5 linked regions of the Homo sapiens genome follow. The protein of the gene in region 2 interacts with the protein of the main gene of each other region in a pairwise test. Each region holds a gene or a part of one and is shown on either strand. Other genes may lie near its edges.

Region 1 (7,092 bases), on a different chromosome or scaffold from region 2:
ATAGAGTGAGTAATCCATTGTTTTTTTGTTTGTTTGTTTGTTTTTGAGACAGGGTCTCGCTTTGTCACCCGGGCTAGAGTGCAGTTGCATGATCACTGCTCACTGCCATCCCAACCTCTGGGGCTCAAGCGATCCTCCCATCACCTCAGCCTCCTGAGTAGCTGGGACTACAGGTGTGCACCAGCCTGCCTAGCTAATTTTTTTATTTTTTGAATTCTTGGTTTCCCAGAGTGTTGGGATTACAGATGTGAGCCATGGCACCCAGCCAGTACTTGTTGAATAAATCAATGCTGTTGAAAAAATTGGGCAAGGCATACTGTTGTTTAAAAAGAAAATTATGGCTGTAGGAGATAAGTAATTAGGTGAATCTTTTAAATCCTGTTTTAAAAAGTCCTATTTTATTTTGTCCTAATTAAAAAAGAATCTCCGCCGGGCGTGGTGGCTCACGCCTGTAATCCCAGCACTTTGGGAGGCTGAGGCAGGCGGATCACCTGAGGTTGGGAATTCAAGACCAGCCTGACCAACCTGGAGAAACCCTGTCTCTCCTGAAAATAGAAAATTAGACAGGCGTGGTGGCTCATGCCTGTAATCTCAGCTACTCTGGAGGCTGAAGCAGGAGAATCACTTGAACCTGGGAGGCAGACATTGTGGTGAGCCAAGATGGCGCCATTGTACTCCAGACTGGGCAACAAGAGTGAAACTCTGTCTCAAAAGAAAAAAAAAATGGAAAGAATCTCAAAGGGGTTAAGCCCTACCAATGGAGGTACAAAATGAGATAACTACCATCTCTCACTTTTTTTTTTTTTTTTGGAGACAGAGTCTCACTTTGTTGCCTAGACTAGAGTGCAATGGCATGGTTTTGGCTCATTGTAGCCTCAACCTCCTGGGCTAAAGTGATCCTCCCACCTCAGCCTTCTCAGTAGCTGGAACTACAGGTGTGCACCACCACGCCTGGCTAATTTTTTTTGTATTTTTTGTAAGAGATAGGGTTTTGCCATGTTGCCCAGGCTGGTCTTGAACTCCTGGGCTCAAGTGATTTGCCCCCTCAAGCCTCCCAAAGTGCTGGGATTACAGGTGTGAGCCACTTGCCCGGCTTCCTTTTTTGTTCTTTTTAAAATTGTAGGCCTTAATTTCATTTTGTTCCTGTTCAGTGCTTAGCACAGTTCCTGGCATGTTGTAAATGTTCAATAAATGATACTACATTTGTTTTACTTAAGCAATTTTCATCATCGTAGAAAATAAGGATTAAATGAGTTAATATACATAAAGCACTTGGAATAGAATCTAGCATATAGTTAGTGCTACATAAGTGTTAACCATTATTCTCTGACACATGAACACCTTTTTGTTTTTTCTATGAAGCTTTCTCTGATTCTGCTACTTTGAATTGGTAATTTGCCTTTCTGTATTCTGGTTGTATTTTATTTATTTGTTATTAGTTTTAGAGACAGAGTATTGCTGTGTTGTTCAGGCTGAAGTGTAGGGGCCTTATGATAGCTCACTGCAGCCTTGAACTTCTGGGCTCAAGAGATCCTTCTGCTTTATCCTCCAGAGTGGCTAGGACTGCAGACATGTGCCACTATGCCCAGCTAATTTTTACATTTTTGTAGAGACATGGTCTCACTATATTGCCCAGGCTGGTCTCAAACTACTGACTTCAAGTGATCCCCTTGCTTTGGCCTCCCAAATTGCTGAGATTACAGGCACGAGCACCATACCCACCCCTCTGCTTGTATTTTATATCACATCTTTTATATTAAATAACATAGATTTGTTTGCTTGTGTGTTTCTCCACCAAATATGATTCTTGATAGCCGGGGACTATCTTATTTATTTTGGTGGTCTCAGTGCATAGTCATTGCTTGCCACATAACATTAGTTCGCTCATTTGAGCTAGGTCTTAAAGAATGAGGAGGGTGGTGTGATTGGAGCATGAGGGGCAGGGGAGTACGTCAGTGGGAAGTGAAATTTGACAAATACACTGATACCAGATTGACCAGATGGTAAGTAGTTGAATGCCAGATTAAAGGATTTGAATTTATTTTATATGCAGCAGGAAGACATTTTGATTACTGACCTCAGTTTCATATTTTAGGTAAGTAATTCTGAGTGCACAGTAGAGCGTGTATTGGAAAGAGGAAAAGAGATTGGAAACAAGAAGAATATGTAAGAAACTCTGGCTCTTGATGTATGATAAGGCTCTTTAGTTGAGAATCTTTCAGCATGTAACCTTTTACTATCATGTAATCTTTTAAGCCTTATCACAAAAAGCCTTCAGGGCTTCCTTGGTAACTTCATTTTGACTTTGTTAAAAGAAAAACTTTAGACGAAATCAATTTATCAGAATTTGTTTTTGTGTTAAAGGATTAATGAATTTGGCAGCACCCAAAATTAGAAGTAGTTCAGGGAGCTCTTGTTTTAACAGAGTAAGCGGCAGACCTTTGCAGGCTGAATGTGGAAGCGAAGTAAAGAAATTACTTGATTGGACTGGGCATAGTGGCTCATACCTGTAATCCCATCATTTTGGGAGGCTGAGGTAGGTGGATCACTTGAGCTCAGGAGTTCAAGACCAGCCTGGGCAACATGGTGAAACTCCATCTCTACAAAAAATGCAAAAATTAGCCAGGCATGGTGGCACATGCCAGTAGTCCCAGCTACTTGGGAGGCTGAGGTGGGAGGATTGCTTGAGCCTGGGAGGTTGAGGCTGCAGTGAGTTGTGATTGTGCCACTGCACTCCAGCCTGGGCAACAGAGCGAGACCCTGTCTTGAAAAAAAAAAAATTACTTGATTGTCATAGCTACTTGTTTGTCTTATTTGGGTACAATCTGGCAGAAAGTTGCTTGTTAGAGAATAGTTGTTGGTTTCTGATTAAAATTAAGTTGTGACATCCTATGGATTGGGAGGAAATATTTGCAAGCCATACATGAGATAAGGGATTAAAATTCAGAATATAAAAGGAACTCAAATAACTCTATAGAAAGAATACAAATAATCCAGTTAAAAAATGGGCAAGGAACCTGTATAGACATTTCTCAAAAGAAGACATACAAATGGCCAACAGATACATGAAAAAATGTTCAACATTACTAATCATCAGGGAAATGCAAATTAAAACCACTATGAGATATCACCCCAATATGTGTCAGAATGGCTACTATCAAACAGATGAAAGATAAGTGTTGGCAAGGCATGTGGAGAAAGGGGAACCTCTGTACACTGTTAATGGCAATGTAAATTAGTACAACCGTTATGGAAAACAGTGGCAGTTCCTCAAAAAACTAAAAATAGAATTACCATATGATCCAGCAATCCAACTTCTGGGTATTTACCTAAAAGATTGGAAATCAGTATGTTGAAGAGATATCTGCACTCCCATGTTCATTGCAGCATTAATCACAATAGCCAAGATACGGAATCAACCTAAGGGTCCTTAGACAGATGAATGGATAAAGAAAAATCTGGTGTACATACGTAGTGGAATACTATTCAGCCTTAAAAATGAAAGAAACTTTGTCATTTGTGACGACATGGATGGATTGGAGAACATTAAGCTAAATGAGATAAGCCAAGTACAAGCAGACAAACAACATATGTGCTTACTTATATATTTAATCTAAAACCGTTGAACTAAAAGAAGCAGAGAGTAGAACAGTGGTTACCAGGGTTGGAGGGAAGGCATGGGGGAATGGGGAGATGATAGTCAAAGGGGAGGAATTTTTTTCTTTGAGATATGTTGCACAGTATGGTGAATATAGTGACTAATAATGTACTTTATACTTGCTAAGAGTAACTTTTAAAAGTTTTCACTACAAAAAAAATTTGAGGTCATGGATATGTTAACTAGATTTAATTATTCCACATTGTATTCATAAATCATCACTTTGTACCTCATAAATATATAACTATAGTCAGTTTATAATTAAAAAATAAAAAGCAAAGATTAAGTTTTGTTTCACTGTTTACATTGGGCTTCAGTTTGCTTACATAGGAACCCAGAGTCCTAGGACCATCTTAGCCAAATGGCCTCCAATTAAAGATTGCTTACACTCTTTTTTTTTTTTTTTTTTTTTTTGAGACAAGAATCCTGCTCTGTTGCGCAGGCTGGAGTGCAGTGGCGCCATCTTGGCTCACTGCAACCTCTGCCTCCTGGGTTCAAGCAATTCTCCTGGCTTAGCCTCCCAAGTAGCTGGGACTACAGGTGCCCGCCACCACACCTGGCTAATTTTTTTGTATTTTTGGTAGAGACGGGGTTTCACCATATTGGTCAGGCAGGTCTCGAACTCCTGACTTCAGGCGATCCACCCGCCTTGGTCTCCCAAAGTGCTGGGATTACAGGCGTTAGCTACCACACCTGGCCAAGATTGCTTACACTTTTTAAAAAATGTTATATTGTTTTTAGTAAAACAAAGGGTAAAATTTAATAAAAAGGCACAAACACATTTTGTGTATATTGTGAAAATACCATCTATTTCCTCCAAAAGCTTATAAATTGATATGAGTATCATAAACCTGTTTATTTTTCTCCTGGACTAAGTATTGTTCAACGTTTAATGTGTATTATGTACAGGGAGGTAATGTGGGACCAGATTTTCTGGTTGGGAAAGGAGATGAGTACTGGTTTTAGTACAATAAGTTTCCATGCTTGTGTAGCACAACTGGAGATGCCTTCATGTAACAGACATATGAAGAGGTTGAGAGAGTAGGCTGGAGATTGGAAGCTATCCAAGTAAAATTGAAGCCTAGGATTTGATGAGTTTGTGTATTTGATAAAGAATAGTGTAAGAGTTGTAACTGGAAACACAATGAAATGTTTTTGTCTTTGGCTTTAGTGACATGGGATGCTTGATCACTAGTGTCTGATGCACCAGAGAAGCATGAAAATTGCAATCTTTGGGTTCAGTGAGGAAGTGGTCATTGGAGACTTGATACTATAATGATTGGGTGGTATGGCAGAGTAAAGTTGAATTGGAAAGGGATTAAGACGAGTTGATAAGGAAGTGAAGCACTGTGTAGTTAAAAAATTTCTGTGAAGAATAAGAAAGCTGGAAGAACACAAGAAACTGTAGGATTAGTGGTGGTTTTTCCAGTTACAGTGTGTGTACATGTGTGGGCGAACCATTTATAAAGAGAAGGAGGCTCAGTACAATTAAGTAAAACAACCAAGAAAATGAAACTGAAATATAGTATTTTAGAAAGGTAAAATGAACCATAGGAATGAAAAGTCCCTGAAATCCAATAAAGCTAATTTTCATCATATAAATTTGACATACAGAAGAAAAATTTTGGTATTTTAATTGTCTTTGGAAGAGTTAAAATTCTTCAACATAGTAGCCACAGGATTACAAAATCTTTGAGTCTGTAATATATGCTTAGAGTGAATTCAAGGTTTTATTTTAGTTTTTTGAGACAGGGTCTTGCTCTGTTGCCCAGCCTGGAGTGCAGTGGTGTGATCATGGCTCACTGCAGCCTCGAACTCCTGGGTTCAGGCAATAGTTCTGCCTCAGCTTCCTGAGTAGCTGGGCCTACAGGTGCATGCCACTACACCTGGCTAATTTTTAAATTTTTTATAGAGATGGTGCTCTTCTGTTGCTCTGGCTGGTCTCTAGCTCCTAACCTGAAGTGATCCTCCCTTCACAGCATCCCATCACAGCACTCCAGAGTACTATGATGACAGGTGTGAGCCACTACACTGGCCAAATTCAAGGTTTTAGAAATCCATAAAAATAGATTGCCAAAAGCTGAATAAATTAATAGACAATACAGTCAGTATTTTTGCTGAAAAAAGATAGGCATAACAGGAACATTTGATAGGTAACTTTTAGCGTGATGTGATGAAGAGAATTTTAAAGCACATTTATCATCTAATTGCCTGGAAAGAAAGAACCAGGGATGGTAAATTAGAAATTTAATAAATTTATCACCCTTTCTGTTTTACAGGACAAGTGAAATGCCGTCTGGAAAACTAATATTTAAAATGTTGGAAGATATTTAAAGTAGATATGTAGCTGAGTAAATTACTAAGATGTTAATAAATAGGAAAACATGAAAAGGACATGTAGGACAGCTTTATGTGAAAAACTTCTGTACTAATTATTAGTCATGCCTGAGTTTAAGGAGCTTTTAGTAAGTATATTGTGTTTAGTTTTATACTGAAGTTCTTATGGTGAAAGATTCTAGAGAGATTATATGTCCTCTTGAGAAAGAAATAACCTATAATCAGGAATAACCTGAATGGTTTGAATCAAAGTTAATTCTATGTGAGTTAATAACTTGTTTCCTAGTTGAGTAGCAGCATACACCCAATTGATACTCTTCTTTAGGTGACAAAATAAAGAAAAAAGTTACGTACAAATAATCAGGTAATGCCACTTCTTAAAAAAATACAATCTATGCAGGTAACAAAATGGCACTTGTAGCCCATAAATTTGTACAAATAAAAAATTATAGGCCGGGCATGGTGGCTCACACCTGTAATCCTAGCACTTTGGGAGGCTGAGGCTGGTGGATCACCTGAGGTCAGGAGATCGAGACCAGCTTGGCCAACATGGTGAAACCCCGTCTCTACTAAAAATACAAAAATTAGCCGGGCGTGGTGGCACATGCCTGTAATCCCAGCTACGCGGGAGGCTGAGGCAGGAGAATTCCTTGAACCTGGGAGGTGAAGGCTGCAGTGAGCTGAGGTTGGCACCACTGCACTCCAGCCTAGGCAACAGAGCGATACTCCGTCTCAAAAAACAAAACAAAATTATAATTCCAGGAGGTGCCTGTTCTTGGCTTCTGCCAGAGGTTACACTTTCCAGCCTGTGGGATGGCCAGACGCAGGCTGCAAAGAAAAAAAAAATTTTATATGTATATATATGTATATACACACACACACACACAAATTGAGATAGTGACAGACAAAGAATTCCAAAAGCTGTTTTAAAAACTAAATTTTCATTATATGTGCCATTAATTTGTAGTATCAGCCCATCTTTTTCAGTTTTGGTATAAGATTAATACAAAGTGAATGACAGACTACATCATTAGTGATCATGATTTGTATAATGTAATTTATGCTTTAGTGAGTTATTTTCCATATAGTAAAATGCC
Region 2 (2,357 bases):
CAGCTCAGGGCTGGACTCTAGGAAACTTTCTGAGGCTGGAGGGTGGGCGTGGGGTTGAGCTCAGCTGTTGAAGCAGGTGTTTGCAGATGTGCCTCAAGCAGAGGTGGTGGGCGGGGCTTGGAGGAGGTGGGTGGGGCAGGCCAAGCTCCTTGCCTCTGGTGGGCGGAGGCGGTCCTGGCTCAGATTCCACACCCTTGTCCACGCAGGTTCCTACTATCTGACCACCACCTACGGGGCCCTGGAGCACATCAAGAGCTACGACAAGATCACGGTGACCCGGCAGCTGAGTGTGGAGGTGCAGGACTCCATCCACCGCTGGGAGCGCCGGCGTACTCTCAACAAGGCCCGGGCCTCCCGCTCCTCCGTACAGGTGAGGCCTGAGAGCGGGAGGGGCCCGGTGGGGCCATGTCCCAGACACCATCCCTGCTGCCTGCTGGCTAAGGAGCCGTGACATCACCTGGCTGCTCCAGCCGCCCAGCCCTGCCTTAGGGGAGCAGTGAGACTCCCCACACCAGAGGAAGGGCCCCCAGCCCCTGCTGCCAGTGTGTGTCCAGGACTTGGGTGCGTCTAGAAACATATCAGCAGGCATTGGTGTTCTCCCTGGGCAAGCAGGAAGGGTGCAGGAGGAATGAGACACACCCATCATTCCTTAGCCCCTCCTAGGACCCAGCACCCTGCAGGGGCTGGAGATGGGGACTTGTCATCCCAGTCCCTGCTTTAAGGAGCCCACAGGCTCATCTACAGCCTTGCTCCTTAGTCCCTGGACAAATGCAGCAGCTGCCAAGGGTCTGCGTAACCCCCACCAACCCAGTGGCCCACCCCTCCCCATACCTCTCTCTATACAGACTCAGTATTCAAACCAGTCCCGCCCCTCCCCAACTCCATCACCCCACCCACCCCCAGGCTGCATCAAATCCAGCTGCCCCCAGTTCCCCAAACATGCCCAGCCCAGTTCACTGGCTGCTCAACCGCTGCCCTCACTGGTCAATCTCCCCTTCTTCACTGGCTGTCACTGCCCATCCTTTAAGACGACTCAGTTTCTCCAACAGCCCCTCCTCTGAGAAGCCTTCCCTGATACACACACACACCGTTTCACACAGGCTGGGTGGGGTGCCCTCCTCTGGGCTTCCTGCGGCCTCCCCTTTTACAGTGCATATCACATCCTATCATCCTCTGCATATGAAGCTGTCACCTCTGGGAGGGCACAGCCCATGGTTCACATGCCTCAGGGGCGCCAAGCCCAGGGCCTGGGACAGAGCAGGACTGGGTGTGTAAAAAAGGGTGAGAGTTGGACTAGTGAGCCAGGCACATCCAGAGCTGTGAGCAGCTATGCAGACTCACTCCTCTGACACCCAGAGCAGACCAGTCCTGAGCCACACTCCTGGCTTTCAAGATGGTGCATCTATAATAAGCAGAGCCCAGGCCTGGGAGACAGGAGGCTTGAGTTCTGGCCCCAGCCCTGTACTAGCTTGCTGTGTGACCCTCAGCAATCCCTGCCCCACTCTGGGACTCAGTTTTCCTGCCCACACAGGCTGACTATGGCTAATCAATTTAATAACTGACTCTCTGGGGAGAAAACAAAAGCTCTGATTTTAGCTTCTGTCCATTTCCATGGTGTGAGTCCTCCATGGCCAACTTCAACTTGGCATCACTGAATGTGGAGTTGGAAAGAAGTGTATGCAGTCGGCTCTCCCTGGCGGGTGTGAGCCAGCTCCAGCACACCTCTGTTCCCATCCCCTCCCAACACCCCGGACTCCCACAGACTGTAGGGACATGGACACTCTTGGTCCAAGCCTGGCCCAGGCATCCCGTACTTCCTGCTTCTACCTTAGGGGTTCCTGATGCTGAGCCAGGCAGAGTATGGATGAAACGGACCACCCACTGTTTGGGAGACGGAAGCTTCGGAGGGGGGTCCCCTCAGCACCACATCTGGGATCTGGGGAGGGCACCACCCTCTGCCCCCTCCCAGTGCCTCCTCCGCACACCATGCCTTGGGGGGTGGGCACCCTTCCCTGGGGAGGGGAAGCCCAGAGCTGGACAGTCACTAGCAGGTGGATAGTGCCCTGGGAGGCCTAATGGAGGACAAGGAGCCCTGAGGCAGCCACTAAGACGGAGGGAGTGGGCCGGGCTTTTCCCCTCCTGGAAGAAATGGGCGGTCCCCGTGAAGCTCTTGACAGGAGCCCGGCCTCGCCTAAGCCCTAGCCACCAGTTGCCATCACGGTCTCCGCCGAGCCGGGATCCTCAGCCGCTTCCCGCGCAGGCCTGCTGTTCCCAATCCGGCCACAAGGGGGCAGCCCCGCGCGCAGCCTCTCTGCCTGCAGCCCTGAGCCCCGGGGAAGGCGAGGCCGCTCCGGGCC
Region 3 (6,263 bases), on a different chromosome or scaffold from region 2:
GCCTCTGAGCCTGGGAGAGGGAGGCACCCCTGTGTTCTGGAAGCCCCCAGTGCTTCAGCAACTCCTCACTGAGGCAGAATAGTGGAGGAATCAAGCTGGGATCCAGGGGACTGAGGAGGGGATAGAGCAGCACCTGGGCCCCACATTCCCTTCCAACAGAGCCTGGGGTGCTGTGTTTCCGGGAGGGTTTTTTTTGTTTTTTGTTTTCCCGAGACAGAATCTCGCTCTGACCCCCAGCCTGGAGTGCAGTGGCATGATCTCGGCTCACTGCAACCTCCGCCTCTCGGGTTCAAGCAATTCTCCTGCCTCAGCCTCCCGAGTAGCTGGGATTACAGGTGCACACCACCACACCTGGCTAATTTTTGTATTTTTTATAGAGACGGGGTTTCACCATGTTGGCTAGGCTGGTCGTGAACTTCTGACCTCATGATCTGCCTGCCTCAGACTCCTAAAGTGCTGGGATTACAGGTGTGAGCCACTGCACCCGGCCTCTTTTTTTTTTTTTTTTTTTTTTTTTGTGAGACAGAGTCTCTGTCCCCCAGGCTGGAGTTCAGTGGTGCAATCTCGGCTCACTGCAACCTCTGTCTCCTGGTTTCAAGCAATTCTCCTGCTTCAGCCTCTGAATAGCTGGGATTACCGACATGCACCACCACGCCCATATAATTTTTGTATTTTTTGTAGAGCTGAAGTTTCACTATGTTGGCCAGGCTGGTCTCAAACTCCTGACTTCTGGTGATCCACCCACCGTGGCCTCCCAAAGTGCTGGGATTGCAGGTGTGAGCCACCGTGCCCGGCCAGAGCCTGGGGTTCTCAAACTCGTTTCTGGGGACCGCCCACCACTTTTCTTGCCAGTGCCCATCTTCCAGGTTCCTCCCAGGCTGCTTCTGCCTGCCTTGTCCTCTTCCTGCCTGTCACACCACACTCTCCCACCAGCATCTTCCTCATTCCGCTCTGACTCTCCTCACCACCCAGCCCGACCTGACTGAAAACCCCGCAGTGGGAGAGCAGGAGGCCCCTGCTTCTAGGTGCCGTGTGAGAAGCAGCTGTGAGGTCGGGTTGGGTGGCTCACGCCTGTAATCCCAGCACTTTGGGAGGCCGAGGTGGGCGGGTCACAAGGTCAGGAGTTCAAGACCAGCCTGGCCAATATGGTGAAAACCCATCTCTACTAAAAGTACAAAAAAAATAGCCAGGTGTGGTGGCGGGTGCCTGTAATCCCAGCCACTCAGGAGGCTGAAGCAGGAGAATCGCTTGAACTTGGGAGGCAGAGGGTGCAGTGAGCCGAGATCATGCCACTGCACTCCAGCCTGGGCAACAGAGCGAGACTCCATAAAAAAGAAAAAGAGATTTAATTGGCTCACAGTTCTGCAGGGGTTACAGGAAGCATAGCACCCACATCACTCAGCTTCTGGGGAGGCCTCAGAGAGCTTTTACTCATGGCAGCAGGTGAAGAGGGAGCAGGCGAGTCACATAGTGAGAGCAGGAGCAGGCGAGAGAGAGGCCAGAGGTGCCACACGCTTCTAAATGACCAGATCTCGCGGGAACCCACTATCACAAAGACAGCTCTGAGCCGTGAGGGATCCGCCTCATGATCCACACACCTTCTGCCAGGCCCCACCTCTAGCACTGGGGATCACAATTCAACATGAGATTTGGGTGAGGACAGATATCCAAACTGTGTGGACAGAGGTGATGCTCCTCTACTTGTTGAACTCTTGAACACTAGTGAAGAGAATGCTGGTGTATTAGTCTGCCAGGCTGCTGTTGCAGAATACCATGAACTGGGCACTTAAGCAACTGAAATAGATTTTCTCACAGTGCTGGAGGCTAGAAGTCCAAGATCCAGGTGCCAGCAGGTTTGGTATCTCCTGAGGCCTCGCCCCTGCGCTTGCAGACAGCCGCCTTCTCACTGGGTCCTTACAGGGCCTTTTTCTTTGAGCCAGTGTAGAGAGCTCTGTTCTTTCTTCCTCTTTTTATAAGCACACCAGTCCTATTTAATTAGGGTCCCACCCTATGGCCTCATTTAATCATTTGTTGTTGTGTTTTTTTTTTTTGAGACGAGGTCTCACTGTGTTGCCCAGGTTAGTCTCAAACCCCTGGTCACAAGTGATCTTCCCACATTGGCCTCCCAAAGTGCTCAGATTACAGGTGTGAGCCATTGCGCCCAGTCTCATTTAACCTTAATTACTAATTTAAAGGTGCCATCATGGCCAGGCGCGGTGGCTCACACCTGTAATCCCAGCACTTTTGGAGGCCAAGGTGGGCGGATCACTTGCAGCCAGGAGTTCGAGACCAGCCTGGCCAACATGGTGAAACCCCCGTCTCTACTAAAAATACAAAAATTAGCTGGGTGTGGTGGCACATGCCTGTAATCCCAGCTACTCAGGAGGCTGAGGCAGGAGAATCACTTGAACCTGGGAGGTGGAGGTTGCAGTGAGCCGAGATCACGCCACTGCACTCCAGCCTGGGTGACAGAGCGAGACTGTCTCAAAAAAAAAAAAAAAAAGTGCCACCACCAAAGACTGTCATATTGGGGGTTAGGGCTTCAACCTACAGATTTGGAGGAAACACTATTTAGTCCACAATAACTGGAGAAGTTGAATTTAGAAGATGGGGGTTGGGGCCAGGCACAGTGACTCATGCCTGTAATCCAGCGCTTTGGGAGACCAAGGTGGGAGGATCACTTGAGGTCAGGAGTTCAAGACCAGACTGGGCAATATAGCGAGACTCCCTCTCTACAGAAAATTTAAAAATTAGCCAGGTGTAGTGGTGTGTGCCTGTAGTCCCAGCTACTCGGAGGCTAAGGCAGGAGGATCGCTTGAGTGCATGGGTTGTAGGTTACAGTAAGCTATGATTGTGCCACTGTACTCCAGACAGGGGAACAGAGCAAGACCCTGTCTCAGCAACAACAAAACAACAGGGAGATAGGGGGTCAGGTGCTGACTTCACCTTAACTTCACTGTGTGCTTTTACAGCAAGCCTGTTACCCTCTGTGAGCCTCAACTTCTCTATGTGTAACAAATGGCCAACTTTATGGGATTGTCAAGAAGCTGAAATGAGACCCTGGCTGGAGGATATTTTATGGACTATAAATTCCTAAACAATTATAATAACTTAGTTATTTATCCTATCCATGGATCACCTGGAAGTTTACAATGTGATTTAAAATGCATTCTATCATTCCACCGACCTGCAGTGAATTTTGTTGTCATTATTACTCCAGGGATACCTAAAGGGGAAGTTTGTTTATAATTCGTACCCACTCCTTGTAGAAAGGATTCAAGACAGCCGATGATGAAAACACCCATGCTTGCAAGTGAAGGTTCTGCCTGTCACTTCTCGCAGAGGCTGCAGAAAAGGCCCAGGAGGCTGTTGATGACATGAACGACCACCAGGAGAAGCTGGAGCAGGCTGATGCACAGAAGGGCGGAGAAGAGGGACACGTGCCAGACAACAGCTGCAGAGGGCTCCAGGCAGACGGAGTTCCAGAGCGAACGGTCATACAGATAATTCCTATCCCAAAAAATAAGGAGACCAGGGGTCAGGCGATAAGTAAGGAAAGCCAAACAGGCAACCCCAGTAGAAAACTGGGGTCTCCCCTGACCGGGTCATGGGACTGGGCTCATGAGGGTGACCGTTACTGCTCCATTTGCAATTTTCTGAGTATCAGAGGAGCAAGATGCTAGGATGTGTGACCCAAAGGAGCTTGTAGTTCGTCTGTGTGTCTTTTTGTCTCTCTCTCTCTCTCTGTCTGAAAAGACCAAGCCCAAGCCTCCACCCATTTACCTACTATGCAGGTCTTTGAATGGGTAACCATATTTCCAAGCTTGTGTCTGATTGAAGGATGAAACATCAAACATGCAAAAAGGACCATCTTTCAGAGCAACTCCAGAAGTGACAAAGCAAATCAGGGCTCCAAGTAAAGCCAGGCCACCTGACAACAGAGCAGTAAGCACCTGCGGAGGGAGGAGAAACACTGAGCTAAGACGGGGTCGCAGCTGGGGAGCCTGCGGAGGGAGGAGAAACGCTGAGCTAAGACGGGGTCGCAGCTGGGGAGTCTGTGGGGCGGTCTGCACAGGTCTGACTTCTCTGGTCTCAGTGTTCTTCCGTCCTGTCATGGGGGAGAATTCTGTCCATGGCACCCCCTTTGAAGCATAACCCATGGTGGGGAGGCCGTGAGGGGTTTCTAGGAGAGAAAGGACCAAGAAGCAGAATCGCAGGCCCCGGATCTCCCTGACCGTGAGTTCGCCTGAGCTGCTCAGCAGCTTGGCATCACAAACCTTTTGCACATTACAGCCATTCAGCCTCTGAGCTAAAGAAGAAGCTACCACAGGCCCACCACTGACTCTTCTAAGGAAAAGCTGCATTTTCAAAAGTTCCAGGTTCCCAACTCTGATTCTTCTCTATTTCAAATCAAGGATAAAAAAAAGGAAGGGAGGGAAGGAAGGAAAGAAAGAAGCAGGAAAGAAGGGAAGGAGAGAAGTGGGAGGGAGGGAAAGAAGGGAGAGAAACAGCGAGAGAGAAGCTGCAGCCAAGCTCTGAAATGACTCCACTTCTGTCGCTGTGTTTCTCCAGCTGAGAGCTTTCTTGGCCATCAGTCTGTGCTCCCACTGCCCTCCCAGAAAATAACTGGGTTTCCTTCCTTGACAGGTTTCTAGCCTGCTTCTACATTGGCTTCTTTCTCGTTCCTTCCTTCCTTCCCTTCCTTCCTTCTTTCTCTCTCTCTCTTTCTTTTTGAGACAGAGTCTCACTCTGTCGCCCAGGCTGGAGTGCAGTGGCACGATCTCAGCTCACTGCAACCTCTGCCTCTGAGTTCAAGCGATTCTCCTGCCTCAGCCTCCCAAGTAGCTGGGACTACAAGCATGCGCCACCACACCCAGCTAATTTTTGTATTTTTAGTAGAAATGGGGTTTCACTGTGTTGGTCATGCCGGTCTCAATCTCCTGACCTTGTGATCCACCTGCTTCAGCCTCCCAAAGTGCTGGGATTACAGGCATGAGCCACCGTGCCCGGCCCATATTGGATTCTTTCTTAGGGTTCTAGATTTTTTTCTCCCTCCCCCAAAAATGCCTATTTTAAAAATGTGAATAACACCTACATAGCGTTTTTCTGCAGAGTCATGGAGTCATTCTCCCACTGAGGTCAAGCTGGTTTGGAGTTGGGGAGGGATCAGACAAAGGTGCATAGTAAGTTTTGACTCTGAGTTAAAGGAGTCAAGATGAATCAGTAAGCCTAGGGCAGTGGTTCCCAAAATGGGGTCCCTGCCCAGCCGCATCACATCACCTGAGAACCTGTTAGAAATGCAAAACTTCCCCGCCATCCTGAATCAGAAACTCTGGGGAGGGAGCCCAGCAATCCGTGTTCCGGCAAAAGCCCTCCAGGTGATTCTCATGCACATTCAAGTGTCAGAACTACGTGCCACGGGGAAAACCAGAATGAGAACAGACAGTGAATGAAATGTGCAAGTGTTTATTTATTTATCTATGTACTTATTTATTTATTTATTTTGAAACGGAGTCTCGCTCTGTCGCCCAGGCTGGAGTGCAGTGGCGCCATCTCGGCTCACTGCAAGCTCCGCCTCCCGGGTTCAAGAGATTTTCCTGCCTCAGCCTCCTGAGTTGCTGGGATTACAGGCGCCCACCACCACGCCCAGCTAATTTTTGTATTTTTGGTAGAGACGGGGTTTCACCATGTTGGCCAGGCTGGTCTCAAACTCCTGACCTCAGGTGATCCGCCCATCTTGGCCTCCCAAAGTGCTGGGATTACAGGCGTGAGCCACCGCGCCTGGCCTATATTTGATTTTTTAACATGTAACTGAGTCAGTGGGCTTCCCAACATGTGGGCTGCAGATATCAGAGCAGGCTGTGGAGTTACCATAAGGCCACAGATTCATGTCTGAGAACGAGTGTGTGTGTGTGTGTGTGTGTGTGTTTGTTACACACACATATACTGAGATCTTTCAAGTTTATACAGTTGCTGCTGTAATTAATAAGGTAGAAATTTATTCTGGGCCTCAGTTTATCTGTAAAATGGAGGGGTTAGATTAGAATCTAGTGATTAGATGATCTCTGGAAAACTTTCCTGTTCTAAGAAAATATTAGTTAAAATAACTAGGAAAATTTCCATCAATGACACATGATTACAGTGTCATAACTCATGTCCATATTGTCCAACACCCTAAGAGAGTAACAGTTTCTCACACTGGTACAGACGTCTGGGTCCTCACACTGGTACAGACGTCTGGGCTTCACTAAGCACTACTCCCT
Region 4 (7,092 bases), on a different chromosome or scaffold from region 2:
GCCACCACAGCTAACTCTCAGTGAGCAGTCTCTCATCCTGTGTTACTCACCACTCTAAGAATTTTTATTAACTCATTTAGTCCTGAGGTGTGGTATAATTATTTTCATCCCCATTTTACAGACAAAGAACCTGAGGTGAGAGAGGTCCTCCTTCTCAGATGGCAGCATCAGTATCTGAGCCCGCATAGGTTCAGATTTAAATTGTTTCTCCGGTTGTGACAAAAACAAGGTGCTGCTCTGCCTACAAGCATTTTCTGCCCTGAATAATGCCTTTGGGAGGGTTTCCACATCTTTCCTTGCTCTGGACTAAGGATCAAGTAAAAAAAGAGAGTGGGGCAGGGATGCTCCACTGGATTGGATCTGTCTAGACTCACTGCTAGCAGTGAGAAATCCAACTCCATCTAGATGGGTGAGAAGGGGGATTTGTAGGAAGATCCCTGGAGCAGCTCAGTCATGTGACTAGATCCAAAGGCAATGTGCCCAACCCTCCCCTCGCAGCTCCACACTCTGGGCCTGTCCTCACTGCTCTAGCGCTGGGTGAGTGCCTTCAAGCACCTTCTCTGCCACTTCTGAGTGGGTTAGGATGACCCTGAGGAAGCCCACAGCCTGGCAAGGGTGGCTTGTGTCTAGCTCCAGACCGGCTACCACAGCCGAGGGGAGGGGAACCATGATAGGCCCAGCCAGGACCACAGCCCCCACTCGGGCTCAGGCTAGGCTCAGGAGCACGGCGGCGGGGGCGGGGGGTGCTCAGGAGCATGGGGAAGCCTTTCAGAGAAGAGGGAAGGAAGCAGGGCAAGTGCCCAGCACAGATGCTGCATAATCTACAATAGCAAAAGATTGGAAGCTGCCCAGTAGTACTGAACAAAACAAGGTTAAATAAAGCTGCTCTAGCCACTCAGCAAAACACTATGTAGCTGTTTAACAAGCAGGAATATCTGGTGGGAATGACAGGACTCGCTGTTTCTCTGTCTACACACATGCACACACACACACACACAACAAACATGCACACACACATACATACACATATGTAATAATTCACAGGTAAGAAAAATATAGGCAAGAATTATATCATAATAGAAGAATCAAATGGCTTTTAATCTGTTTACCAAACTTTTCTTTACGGGTTCAACAAATTATTGTCTGTACCAGGCAAGGCACTGGGGACATGACAGGGAACACAATAGAAGAAAAATCCCTGCCCTCATGGAATTTACATTCTAGTGGGGGAGGCAGATGACAAGATAAATAAGCAAAATACACCTTATATTGGATAACGATAGTGTAAGGAGAAAAAGCAATGAAGGCAAAGGGGAAGTTGGGATGCAGTGGTAACGGTTTAGACACGATGACCAGGGAAGGCTGAAGGAAATGAGGGACCAAGCTCTGCAGATATTGGGAGAGGTGCATTTTGGGCAGCGGGAATAGCAGGTGCAAAGGCCCTGAGGTGCCCACGCAGGGAACAGCATGGAGGTGATGTGGCTAGAGTGCGGTTATGAGGGGGAAGGGCAAACTAAGAGAGGAGTCAGAGAGGAAATGCAGCCAGATCACATGGGGCCTTGCAGCCAGCCACCCTAAAGGCTTTGGCTTTGTTGCAGTGAAATGAGAGCTATTTGAGGGCTTTGAGCAGAGAAGTAGCCAACCCTTCAGAAGGTTCCCTCTGACTCTGAGTTGAGAACAAGCTGAAAGGAGGTAAAGGCAGAGGCTTGGAGGCCGCAGTCATTCAGGTGAGAGGGGAGAATGACCTGGAGGGTGGTAGGAGCGGGAGGGGAGCAGTGGCCACTCTACAAGTAGAGTCTTTTGACAAGTGAAGAGAAGAGAGATACAAAAGTCAAAGATGACGCCCCAGGCTTTGGGCCTGAGCAACCAGGAGGTTGGGGTGCTCCTTAACAGAGATGTGGGAAGAGGATCAGGAGAGTCGGGCATCCTAGAAGCCAGGTGAGACAAGGCTTCGAGGAAGAGAAAGTGACCAACTCCATCACACGCTGCTGGTAGTCAGGAAGGATGGCAACAGAGAACAGGCCATTGGGATGAGCAACCAGGCACTCACTGTAGACCTTGGTAAGAGATATCTGGGGAGAGGGGAGTGGAAGCCAAGCCTGCCTGAAATGAGGGGCTCAAAAGAGAATGGGATAGCAGCATCATTCACAATAGACAAAAGGTGGAAGCAACTCAGTGTCCATGACAGATGAATGGTAGAACAAAATGTGGCAAATGCATAGAATTGAATAATATTCTGCCTTAAAAAGGAGGGAAATTCCATGCCAGCTGTGCTGGCTCACGCCTGTAATCCCAGCACTTTGGGAGGCCCAGGGAGGGGGACTGCCTGAGCTCAGGGGCTCGAGACCAGCCTGGGCAACATGGCAAAACCCTGTCTCTACCAAAAATACAAAAAAATTAATTGGGCATAGTGGTGCATGCCTGTAGTCCCAGCTAACCCGGAAGCTGAGGTCAGAGGATTGCTTGAGCCTGGGGGGTAGAGGTTGCAGTGAGCTGAGATTGTGCCACTGCAGCAATCAGTGACAGAGTGAGGCCCCGTCTCAAAAAACAAAACAGAAAACCAAAAACCAAGAAGGAAATTCTTTCTTTTTTTTTTCTTTCTTTTTTTTTCTTTTTTTGGAGACAGGGTTTCCCTCTGTTATCCAGGCTGGGATGCAGCGGCAAGATCACGGCTCACTGCAGCCTCAACTTCCCTGACTCAAGTGATCCTCCCATCTCAGCCCCCAAGTAGCTGAGATTACAGGTGCATGCCACCACGCCCAGCAAATTGCTGTATTTTTTGTAGACAGGGTATCACCATGTTGCCAAGGCTGGTTTTGAACCCCTGGGCTCAACATCCGCCTCCTCGGTGCTGGGATTACAGGCATGAGCCACCATACCCAGCCCAAAGGAAGGAAATTCTGACACATGTTACAACATGGGTGAACCTTGAGCACATTATGCTGAGTGAAATAAGCCAGTCACAAAAGGACAAATATGGCATGATTCCACTTATATGAGGTATCTAGAACAGTCAAATTCAGAGACAGAAAGTAGAATGCTGGTCTCCAGGGACTAGGGGCAGGGGGGAATGGGAGTTGCTGTTTAATGGATACAGTGTTTCAGTGTCACAAGATGAAAAGCTCTGCAGATTGGTTGCACAATAATATCAGTATACGCAACACTACTGACCTGAAAACTTAAAAATAGTCAACACAGTAAATTTTACGTTATGTGTGTTTTATCACAATTTTTTGAGACACAATAGAAGGCAAAAAATTAGTAAGTCCAGAAAATTATTTCAAAAAGTTTTGCTCTAAACTGAAGAGAAATGGGTGTATAACTGTAGGGAGAAGTAGGGTGGAGAGAGGGTTCTGCTGTTTTTAAGTTGGGAGAAATAACTGCATGTTTATTTGCTGATGGGACCAATCCAGTAGGCCATGGTCTTAAATGTTGAAATTACTTGCAAAAGGCCGGGCGCAGTGGCTCACGCCTCACGCCTGTAATCCCAGCACTTCGGGAGGCCGAGGCGGGCAGATAACTTGAGGTCAGGAGTTCGACACCAGCCTGGCCAACATGGTGAAACCCTATCTCTACGAAAAATACAAAATTAGCCGGGTGTGATGGTGTGCACCTGTAGTCCCAGCTACTAAGGAGGATGAGGCAGGAGAATCACTTGAGCCCAGGAGGCAGAGGTTGCAGTAAGCTGAGATTATGTCACTGCACTCCAGCCTGGGCAACAGAGCAGGACTCCATCACAAAACAAAAAAAAAAGAAATTACTTGCAAAAGAAAAACTGTATTTTAGGATGATAAATATTCTGGAACTAGTGGTGATATCTGCACTACCGTATGCATGTGCTAAAAAACAGACTGGGTACTTGAAAAGGGTCAATTTTGTGGTATGTTAATTATACCTCAATAAAAATAAAAGCTATAATAAATGTTTAATGTCTTCCAAATACCATGTTCTCATACAGGCTGAGTTCCCACCCAGGCAGCCCCAGATACCTACAGTTTCTGTGGCCAGTGACCCACCACAGCTAGGTGGTAGCCTGCGGAACAGGAGAGGCAAGGTCATCCTCATTACGGCTGAGTCACAAATGCTGCATTAGCACACACAGCCCCCTACAGCTAGATCTACGGAGCATGCACCAATTTGTTGCAGATAAATGGCACCTTTTACTTAGGCCCATGAACTCTCAGGTCTTCAGTCTTAAAATGAAATCTAAGAGCTGGGCACAGTAATTCACATCTGTAATCCCAGCTACTCAGGAGGCTGAGGCAGGAGGATCACTTGAGGCCAGGAGGGCAACACAGTGAGACTCTGTCTCCAAAACAAAAAAAAAAAACCCTAAAATGTAAGAAAAAATCCTTTCAATCAGAACAAGAAACTCTGCACCCCCACTGCCAATCTGCCCACCCATCTGGTCCACCTGTAATTGCAAGAGAACAAGGGAGGGACTTATTTTGCAGTCAATCAAAGGGGAGGGAATTCTTTCCGAAATGTTCTCCTATCTGTACCAACAGCACACTTCCACTTCCAACCATTACACTTTTCCTTTCTTTCTTTTTTTTTTTTTCTGAAACAGAGTCTGACTCTGTCACCCAGGTACAGTGGCATGATCTTGGCTCACCGCAACCTCCGCCTCCCAGGTTCAAGCGATTCACCTGCCTCAGCCTCCCAAGTAGCTGGGATTGCAGGCACCCGCCACCATGCCTGGCTTAATTTTTGTATTTTTAGTAGAGACGGGGTTTCACCATGTTGGCTAGGCTGGTCTTGAACTCCTGACCTCAAGTGATCCATCCGCCTCGGCCTCCCAAAGTGCTGGGACTATTGGCGTGAGCCACCGCGCCCAGGCTTTTGCCTTTTTCCTTTCTTCTGAACAACCTCAAACAGTATTTTACCCACTGTGATGATTAATTTTATGTGTCAACTTGGCTAGACCATGGTAACCAGCTATTTGGTCAAACATTCTAGACATTTCTGTGAAGGTATTTTTTAGATGAGATTAACATTTAAATCAGTGGACTTAGAGTAAAGCAGATTATTCTCCATGATGTGGTGGGCTTTATCCAATCAGCTATAAGCCTTAATAGAAAAAGACCGACCTCCCAGAGCAGGAAGAATTCTACCCAGAGAGCCTTTGGGCTCACTGCAACTCTTCCCTGGGTCTCCGGCCTGCCAGTCTACCTTGCTGATTTTTGACTCACCTGGCCTCCACAATCACATGAGCCAATTCCTAAAAATCAACCTCTCAATAGATAGATGAGCGATTGATTGACACACATCCTGTTGGTTCTGTTTCTCTCCAAACCCTAATACACACCCAAAATAAGTGATTTTCCAATAGAAATTGTCTGTAAGGACCTGTACTTGCATGAAATTTCAAGTCACCAGATAAATGAATAAAAATATATTTTTTAAAAACCACAAAATATGGCAACCCAGAAAGAATAACATTTGTCGGCCAGGCGCGGTGGCTCACGCCTGTAATCCCAGTACTTTGGGAGGCCAAGGCGGGTGGATCACAAGGTCAGGAGATCGAGACTATCCTGGCTAACACGGTGAAACCCTGTCTCTTCTAAAAATACAAAAACAAAATTAGCCGGGCGTGGTGGCGGGCGCCTGTACTCCCAGTTACTCGGGAGGCTGAGGCGGGAGAATGGCGTGAACCCAGGAGGCAGAGCTTATAGTGAGCCAAGATTGCGCCACTGCACTCCAGCCTGGGTGACAGCAAGACTCTGTCTCAAAATAATAATAATAATAATAATAATAATAATAATAATATTTGTCTATATACTGATCAAAGCTATCATAGTAGATATATTTGTTTTCAAATGCAACTTTAGGGTGGGTGCAGTGGCTCACACCTGTAATCCCAGCACACTGGGAGGCTGAGGCCAGAAAATCACATGAGGCCAGGAGTTTGAGACCAGCCTGGGTAATACAGAGAGACCCAGTCTCTACAAAAAATTTAAAAAATTAGCCGGCGTGAGACCAGGCACGGTGGCTCATGCCTGTAATCCCAGCACTTTGAGAGGCCGAGGCGGGCGGATCATGAGGTCAGGAGATCGAGACCATTGGCTAACACGGTGAAACCCCGTCTCTACTAAAAAAAAAAAACAAAACAAAAAAATTAGCCAGGCAAAGTGGCGGGCTCCTGTGGTCCCAGCTACTCAGAAGGCTGAGGTAGGAGAATGGCGTGAACCTGGGAGGCAGAGCTTGCAGTGAGCCAAGATCACACCACTGCACTCCAGCCTGGGCGACAGAGCAAGACTCCGTCTCAAAAAAAACAAAAACAAACAAACAACAACAAAAAATTAGCCGGTGTGGTGGCATGCACCTGTAGTCCCAGTTACTCTGGAGGCCAAGGCAAGAGGATCACTTGAGCCCAGAGGACACTAGACACGCATAGGGTAACTATTGTTTCACCAAATAATTCAGATATGCGCGCACACACACATACACACACACACACACACACACCAGGTTACCAGGTTGCAGTCTATGTTTTACAATAGGTCACAGTCAAAAACATGGGAGAAGCCACCATACTCCACCACACAATAAATGCTTAATAAAATTTGGTAGCATCATCATTCTTATCTCACTCTAAAAGGTAATACGTTCATTTTCTTCATTAGCATTTATTATCACAATAAAATAGAGCTTCTAACACATTTATCAATGCTGCCACTCACTGCAGTGCTGTTTAAGAGTCATTGCACCTCCCTAAATTAACTTGCCAATTCTCTCGCCTCAAAAGGACTCAGGCAATCATTTAAATAATTTCTGACTCACAAAGCTGGCCAAGGATTAGCGAGGCCCTGCCCAGCCCAGAACACATGAAATGTGAGTGATTTGTTAAGAAAACCATTTGAGTTTGCAAGACTGCACAGGGCTTTTATAAAACTAAAGCCATGCTGGAGAGAAACAGTCCTCCCCACCCCCTTGGGAGATGTGTCATAGAGATAGGTCACACAAGGTCAGCCAAGCTGTACCTTCTGAGACTGGGCAGGAACTGAAGCGCCAAACCTCAACTGTGTAACGTGCTTCCTTGTTTTGGGGTTAGGTTATATCATTGTGTTTTTCCCCTAACTTTCCATGTGC
Region 5 (7,092 bases), on a different chromosome or scaffold from region 2:
GTGCCCTCGAGGCAAAGTTCCAACGTGGCCCCCCGGGCGCCACCGCCCCGCAGACCTCGCTTGCTTCGACTCGGCCTCTTTGCTTTTTCCCCCACCTCTAACAGCCGCCCTGGCCTTTCGGTTCCTTAAACTTGCCATGCGCTTTCCCGCTTCGGGGATTTTGCACAGGCTGTCCCTTCTGCCTGCAACATCCTTTTACCCATTCGGCTTGGCTAACTCCCATTTCATCCTTCGGGTCTCGGCACCAACGTCACTTCCTCTGCGAAGCCCTCCTTCCCTGCCCTCCATCCAGAAATCCGCCTGTTAAATGCTTTTGTCGGTCCGTGTTCCTTCATGTCACGTGTGGTCTAATTTGTTATCCGACTCTTATCTGTGTGCTGTTTTATGATGTCTATGACCGTGTGTTCCATGAAGGTAGGGACTAGGTTTGTCTCTGTCGCCACTGTGTTCTCAGCACAGCGCCAATCACGCCGGAGACGCCCAGCTAATGTTCGTTGAAGGAATAAAAGATACTCCTAGAGCCAGTTTGGGGAAACAGGGTAGTCATCAGATTCCTAGGTAGCAGTGGGGCAGGGTACCACTTCTTAACGAGTACATCGAGAGGGAAGGGGAAACAGTGATACTGTTCATCATAGCAAAAGGCTACACGCATCCCAAATGTTCTTAAATAAGAAGATTGGCTGAAAGAAACTATAATACATCCACATAAAAAATACTATGCAACTCTAAAAAGGAATGAGGTAGATAAAAGGAAATGATGAAAATCTCTATACACTGATATAGTGGCCTCCAACATATATTAAGGGAAAACAAGTGAAGTGGAGGTTGGTGTTTATTGTATATGCTTTTTCTTTTTTTTTTTTTTTGAGACAGGGTCTCACTCTGTCGCCCAGGCTGGCACGATCCCAGTTCACTGCAACCTCCACCTCCCTGGTTCAAGTGATTCTCCCACCCCAGCCTCTCGAGTAGCTGGGATTACAAACGTGCCCCACCACACCCAGGTAATTTTTATATTTTTAGTAGAGACGGGGTTTCTCTGTGTTGGCCAGGCTGGTCTTGAACTCCTGACCTCAAGTGATCTGCCCACCTCAGCCTTCCAAAGTGCAGGGATTACAGGCCTGAGCCACCAAACTCGGCCTGTGTAGGCTCCTTTTTTTTTTTTTTGAGACAGAGTCTCACTCTGTCACCCAGGCTGGAGTGCAGTGGCGTGATCTCGGCTCACTGCAACCTCTGCCTTCCAGGTTCAAGCAATTCGCCTGCCTCAGCCTCCCAGGTAGCTGGGATTACAGGCACACCACCACGCCTGGCTAATTTTTGTATTTTTAGTAGAGATGGGGTTTCACCATGTTGGTCAGGCTGGTCTTGAACTCCTGACCTCGTGATCCACCTGCCTCCGCCTCCCGAAGTGCTGGGATTACAGGCGTGAGTCACCGCTCCCGGCCCTGTGTATGCTCTTTTTGTAAATGAAAGGGAAATATGTATATATGGGTTTTTTTATTTTCATTTTTTTTCCTTTTTTTGCATAAAATCTAGCTCCTGCAGGAGAATTTTGTGTATGTGTGTTTAAAAAAGAACAAAACAAAACTGAAAGCATAAACCAAAAAGCAGAAGAAGAATGAAACAGGGTAAAATATTTTGGTTGATCTGAATGTATTATCATGAAAAAAGTGGAAATGTTTATTATGGGGTTTTATTTTATTTTATTTTATTTTTTGAGGCAGAGTCTCATTCTGTCGCCCAGGCTGGAGTGCAGTGGTGTTGGGATTACAGGTGTGAGCCACCATGCCCGGCCTGTTTTTTTTATGTTTTGACTGGGGACGGCATGCCATGCCGGTTGTCTGGTGGCCAGGATCCTTGGCTTACGTAAACAGACCTGGGGGTAAAAAACAATTCCTTTCAGATAAACAGTACTGTAGCATAGTGGTAAGGAAGATATGCAGCCATGCTGCTGACTCTGCCTCTTACAAGCTATATGCCTTTGGTCAGGTCACTTTACCTCCCTGGTCTTCAGTTTCCTCATCTGTAAAATGAAAATTAAAAATACTAACTCCCAGCCTGGGCAACATGGCGAAACCCTTCTCTACAGAAAGTACAAAAATTAAATGGGGATTCGCCTGTAGTCTCAGCTACTTGGGAAAATGAGGTAGGAGGATCGCCTGAGCCCGGGAGGCAGAGATTGCGGTGAGCTGAGATTGCGGCACTGCACTCCAGCTTGGGCAACAGAGTGACACCCTGTCTCAAAAAAACAAAAAATGTAAACCTAACTCATGTATATTAATTCTAATATATACATATTAATTCATTTAAACCTTGGTGTCTGAGGTTTAAATGAGTTAATATGTATATCTTAGAATTGTGCTTAGCACATATTAAGTGTTCTCTCTCTCTCTTTCTCTTTCTCTCTCTGTGTGTGTGGGTTTTTTTTCTTTTTTTTTTTAATTTGAAACGCAGTTTCACTCTTGTTGCCCACGCTGGAGTGCAATGATGTGACCTCGGCTCACTGCAACCTCCTCCTCCCAAATTCAAGCGATTCTCCTGCCTCAGCCTCCCGAGTAGCTAGGATTACATGTGCCTGCCACCATGCCTGGCTAATTTTTTTGTATTTTTAGTAGAGATGAGGTTTCACCATGTTGGCCAGACTGGTCTCAAACTGCTAACCTCGGGTGATCCACCCGCCTTGGCCTCCCAAAGTGCTGGCATTATAGGCTTGAGCCACCGTGCCCGGCCGTGTTCAATATATATTAACTGATTATTTTTTCTTTTTTTTTTTTGGAAACAGGTTCATCAGGTTCATGCTCTGTTGCCCAGGTTGGACTACGGTGGCCCAATCATACTTCACTACAACCAGGCTCAAACAATCCTCCCACCTTAGCCTCCAGAGTAGCTGGGACTAAAGGTTCATGGCACCATGCCTGGCTAATTTTTTTTTTTTTTTTTTTTTTTTTTTAGATGGAGTCTTACCGTGTCTCCCAGGCTGGAGAGCAGTGGCATGATATCGATGCCCAGCTAATTGTGCATATGTCTAGAGATGGTGTGTCGCTGTGTTGCCCAGGCTGGTTTCAAACTCCTGGCCTCAAGTACTCTTCCTGCTTCAGCCTCCCAAAATGTTGGGATTATAGGCATGAACCCCTGCACCTGGCCTTCTTTTTTAGTTTTTAGGCCTAGGCTAGTCCTGAACTCCTGGCCTCAAGCCATCCTCCCACCTAGACCTACCAAAATGCTGGGTTTACAATTGTGAGCCACTATACCCGTCCTATTTTTGTTTTCTTTCCTTTCTTTGTTTTTGTTTTGTTTTATTTTTGAGACAGAGTCTTGCTCTGTCATCCAGGCTGGAGTGCAGTGGCGCAATCTCGGCTCGCTGCAACGTCTGCCTCCCAGGCTCAGGTAATTCTCATGCCTCAGCCTCCCAAGTAGCTGGGATTACAGGCATCCATCTCCATGCCCAAGTAATTTTTTTGTATTTTTAGCAGAGACTGGGTTTTGCCATGTTGGCCAGGCTGGTCTTGAACTCCTGGCCTCAAGTGATCTGTCCACTTTGGCCTCCCAAAGTGCTGGGATTACAGGAGTGAGCCACCACACCATGCCCTTTTTTTTTTTTTTTTTTAAAGACTTGTCAAGTGCAGTAGTGAGAAAGGGGGAAAAAGTAGAACAAGTATAGCTATTAGGATTCAAGAGTGAAAGGGCAGGAATACTGAACCCAGTGATTGGGGAGGCCGTTTGGCAGTAGTGTTCACTCATTCAGCAGATGTTTATTGAGCTCCTGCTAGGTGCCAAGCACTCTTCCGTGCTGGGAATATAAAAAGTGAAGGAACAAAATCCCTGTTCTAGGCCGGGGGCGATGGCTGAGACTTGTGATCCCAAGCACTTTGGGAGGCCAAGGAGGGTGGATTGCTTGAGTGCAGGAGTTCAAGACCAGCCTGGGCAACATGGCGAAACTCTGCTTCTACCAAAAAATGATTTCAAATAAATAAATCACTGTCCTCGTGGAACTTATAAATATGTAGTGTGTGATGATGATAAATGCTATGGAGAAAAAGCAACACAGATGGGGATCGAGAGGAAGTTAAAATTTGAAATATGGTCGTCGGCCGGGCGCGGTGGCTCATGCCTGTAATCCCAGCACTTTGGGAGGCCAAGGCGGGCGAATCACCTGAGGTCGGGAGTTCGAGATCAGCCTGACCAACATGGAGAAACCCCGTCTCTACTAAAAATACAAAATTAGCCAGGCGTGGTGGCACATGCCTGTAATCCCAGCTACTAGGGAGGCTGAGGCAGGAGAATCGCTTGAACTTGGGAGGCAGAGGTTGCTGTGAGCTGAGATCACGCCATTGCACTCCAGCCTGGGCAATAAGAGGGAAACTCCGTCTCAAAAAAAAAAGAAACATAGTCGTCAGGGAAGACCTTACTGCAGAGACATGTGAGTGGAGACCTGAAGGAAATGAAGAGGGAAGGAGTTGTGCTGATATCTAGGAGGAGGAATATTCCAGGCAGACGGAAGAGAGGCACAAAGTCTTTGAGGAAGGGGCATGTTGGGCATGTTCACAGGACAGCGAGGAGGCCAGAGTGGGTGGAGCAAAGAGCCCAGGGGGAGAGGCAGTCAGAGGAAGAACAGGCCAGATGCCATAAAATCTTGTAGGCCTTGATGGGGACATTGGCCCTGACCCTGAGCAAGATAGGGGGTGACAGGCAGCAGGGAAACTAGGGAGGAGGCTGTGGCTCGTCATTCATTGAGGAGACCCCTATCATGTGATACTACTGTGAATAGCTATTGGGTAGTTCCTTTTAAAAAACGTGTCATTTTCGGCTGGGCGCTGTGGCTCACACCTGTAATCCCAGCAATTTGGGAGGCCAAGGTGGGCAGATCACCTGAGGTCAGGAGTTCGAGACCAGCCTGACCAACATGGTAAAACTTCGTCTCTACTAAAAATACAAAAATTAGCTGGATGTGGTGGCACATACCTGTAATCCCAGCTACTTGGGAGATGAGGCAGGAGAATTGCTTGAACCTGGGAGGGTGGAGGTTGCGGTGAGCTGAGATTGTGCCATTACACTCCAGCCTGGGAAACAAGAGTGAAATTCCATCTAAAAAAAAAAAAAAAAAAGTATTTTCGGCTGGTTGCGGTGGCTCACGCCTGTAATCCCAGCACTTTGGGAGGCCAAGGCGGGCGGATCACGAGGTCAGGAGATCGAGACCATCCTGGCTAACATGGTGAAACCCCGTCTCTACTAAAAATACAAAAAATTAGCCGGGCGTGGTGGCAGGCGCCTGTAGTCCCAGCTACTGGGGAGGCTGAGGCAGGAGAATGGTGTGAACCCAGGAGGCGGAGCTTGCAGTGAGCCACGATCACGCCACTGCACTCCAGCCTGGGCGACAGTGCAAGACTCCATCTCAAAAAAAGAAAAAAGTATCATTTTCACCGTCCTCAGATTATTGTTTTTTTGGCATGTTTGTTTGTTTAGTGTGTGTTTTTTTTTTTTTTTTTTTTTTTTTGAGACAGAGTCTCACTCTGTCGCCCAGGCTCGAGTACAGTGTTGTGATCTCAGCTCACTGCAAGTTCCGCTTCCCGGGTTCATGCCATTCTCCTGCCTCAGCCTCCCGAGTAGCTGGGAATACAGGCGCCCGCCACCATGCCCGGCATATTTTTTTGTATTTTTAGAAGAGACGGGGTTTCACCTTGTTAGCCAGGATGGTCTCGATCTCCTGACCTCCGTGATCCGTCCGCCTTGGCCTCCCAAAGTGCTGGGATTACACGTGTGAGCCACCGCACCCAGCCTTGTTTTGTTTTTAAGACAGTCTCATTCTCGTCCAGGCTGGAGTGCAGTGGCGTGATCTCAGCTCACTGCAGCCTCTGCCTCCCAGGTTCAAGTGATTCTCCCACCTCAGCCTCCCAAGTAGGTGGGATTATAGGTATGCGCCACCATGCCTGTCTAATTTGTATGTTTTTAGTAGGGAACAGTGTTTCTCCATGTTGGCCAGTCTGGTCTCGAACTCCTGACCTCAGGTGTTCTGCCTACCTCAGCCTCCCAAGGTGCTGGGATTACAGATGTGAGCCACTGCACCTGGCCTGTTTGTTTCTGAGACAGGGTGTTGCTCTGTCCGCAGGCTGGAATGCAGTGGTAGGGATCACAGCTCACTGCATCCTCCACCTCCTGAGCTCAATTGATCCTCCCACCTTAGCCTCCCAAAATCCTGGGATTACAGGCGTGAGCTGGCCAAATTATTATTAATTATCATAATTGTTGTTAGCAGTTTATGCAGTAGCCTTCAGATCTTTTCCCATGTACATAAAAATAATAGTATACTTAGCCAATGTTTACTGTATATACTAACTCATTTAATCCTCAAAATAGTCTTGGGAGGTAAGCCCTGTTACTATCCCTGTTTCCTAGAAGAGGAAACTGAGAGCCAGAGAAGTTAAATGTCTTGCCTCAGGTCATTCTGCGTATACATAAACACATACTTGACAAAAATGGCTTGAACTGCATGTATTGTCCTCTGATGCAACAGGCTGTCAGGGACCTCTTTTCAGGATAATATACTGAGATTCACCTTTTTTTTTTGAGATGGAGTCTGTCTTTATGTCCCAGACTGGAGTGCAGTGGCATGATCTCGGCTCACTGCAACCTCCGCCTCCTGGGTTCAAGCGATTCTTCTGCCTCAGCCTCCTGAGTAGCTGGGATTATAGGCTCAGCTAACTGTTGTATTTTTACTAGAGATGGGGTTTCACCATGTTGGCCAGGCTGGTCTCAAACTCCTAACCTCAGACGATCCACCCGTTTCGGCCTCCCAAAGTGTTGGGATTACAGGCGTGAGCCACCGCGCCCGGCTTCACCAATTTTTTTTACCCTGTTTCCTCTGCTGGTTTTTGGTTTATCCTTTCAGATTTTTTTCCTTTTTTAACATATATATTTTTTCCCCTTTCTTTTTTTTGAGTCAAGTTCTCACTCTGCTGCCCAGGCTGGAGGGCAGTGGCCCGATCTTGGCTCACTACAGCCTCTGCCTTCACCTCCCTGAGTAGCTGGGACTACCAGGCACGCCACCATGCCCAGCTAATTTTTATATTTTCTGTAGAGATAGGGTTACACCATGTT

The links.
Region 1: the proteins of RIN3 (region 2) and ASB3 interact in a two-hybrid assay, tested with the Homo sapiens proteins (one large-scale study listed by BioGRID).
Region 3: the proteins of RIN3 (region 2) and TM4SF19 interact in a two-hybrid assay, tested with the Homo sapiens proteins (one large-scale study listed by BioGRID and IntAct).
Region 4: the proteins of RIN3 (region 2) and SPATA12 interact in a two-hybrid assay, tested with the Homo sapiens proteins (one large-scale study listed by BioGRID and IntAct).
Region 5: the proteins of RIN3 (region 2) and SYMPK interact in a two-hybrid assay, tested with the Homo sapiens proteins (one large-scale study listed by BioGRID and IntAct).

What each region holds. Positions count from the first base shown.
Region 1 is NC_000002.12:53,775,130-53,782,221, reverse strand, and holds part of ASB3 (ankyrin repeat and SOCS box protein 3), read left to right. Parts: intron 1-7,025; exon of another isoform or gene 7,026-7,092. UniProt on the Homo sapiens protein: Probable substrate-recognition component of a SCF-like ECS (Elongin-Cullin-SOCS-box protein) E3 ubiquitin-protein ligase complex which mediates the ubiquitination and subsequent proteasomal degradation of target proteins. Recognizes TNFRSF1B.
Region 2 is NC_000014.9:92,684,781-92,687,137, forward strand, and holds part of RIN3 (ras and Rab interactor 3), read left to right. Parts: intron 1-206; coding exon 207-370; intron 371-2,357. UniProt on the Homo sapiens protein: Ras effector protein that functions as a guanine nucleotide exchange (GEF) for RAB5B and RAB31, by exchanging bound GDP for free GTP. Required for normal RAB31 function.
Region 3 is NC_000003.12:196,320,488-196,326,750, forward strand, and holds the end of TM4SF19 (transmembrane 4 L6 family member 19), read right to left. Parts: intron 5,084-6,263; exon of another isoform or gene 3,954-5,083; coding exon 3,784-3,953; exon of another isoform or gene 3,511-3,783; coding exon 3,330-3,510; coding exon of another isoform or gene 3,227-3,329; 3' UTR 3,060-3,226; downstream 1-3,059. UniProt on the Homo sapiens protein: Negatively regulates vacuolar (H+)-ATPase (V-ATPase) activity by interacting with members of V-ATPase V0 complex and hence inhibiting V1-V0 complex assembly. Required for multinucleation during osteoclast differentiation.
Region 4 is NC_000003.12:57,061,723-57,068,814, forward strand, and holds part of SPATA12 (spermatogenesis-associated protein 12), read left to right. Parts: intron 1-7,092.
Region 5 is NC_000019.10:45,855,809-45,862,900, reverse strand, and holds part of SYMPK (symplekin), read left to right. Parts: intron 1-873; exon of another isoform or gene 874-1,001; intron 1,002-7,092. UniProt on the Homo sapiens protein: Scaffold protein that functions as a component of a multimolecular complex involved in histone mRNA 3'-end processing. Specific component of the tight junction (TJ) plaque, but might not be an exclusively junctional component. May have a house-keeping rule.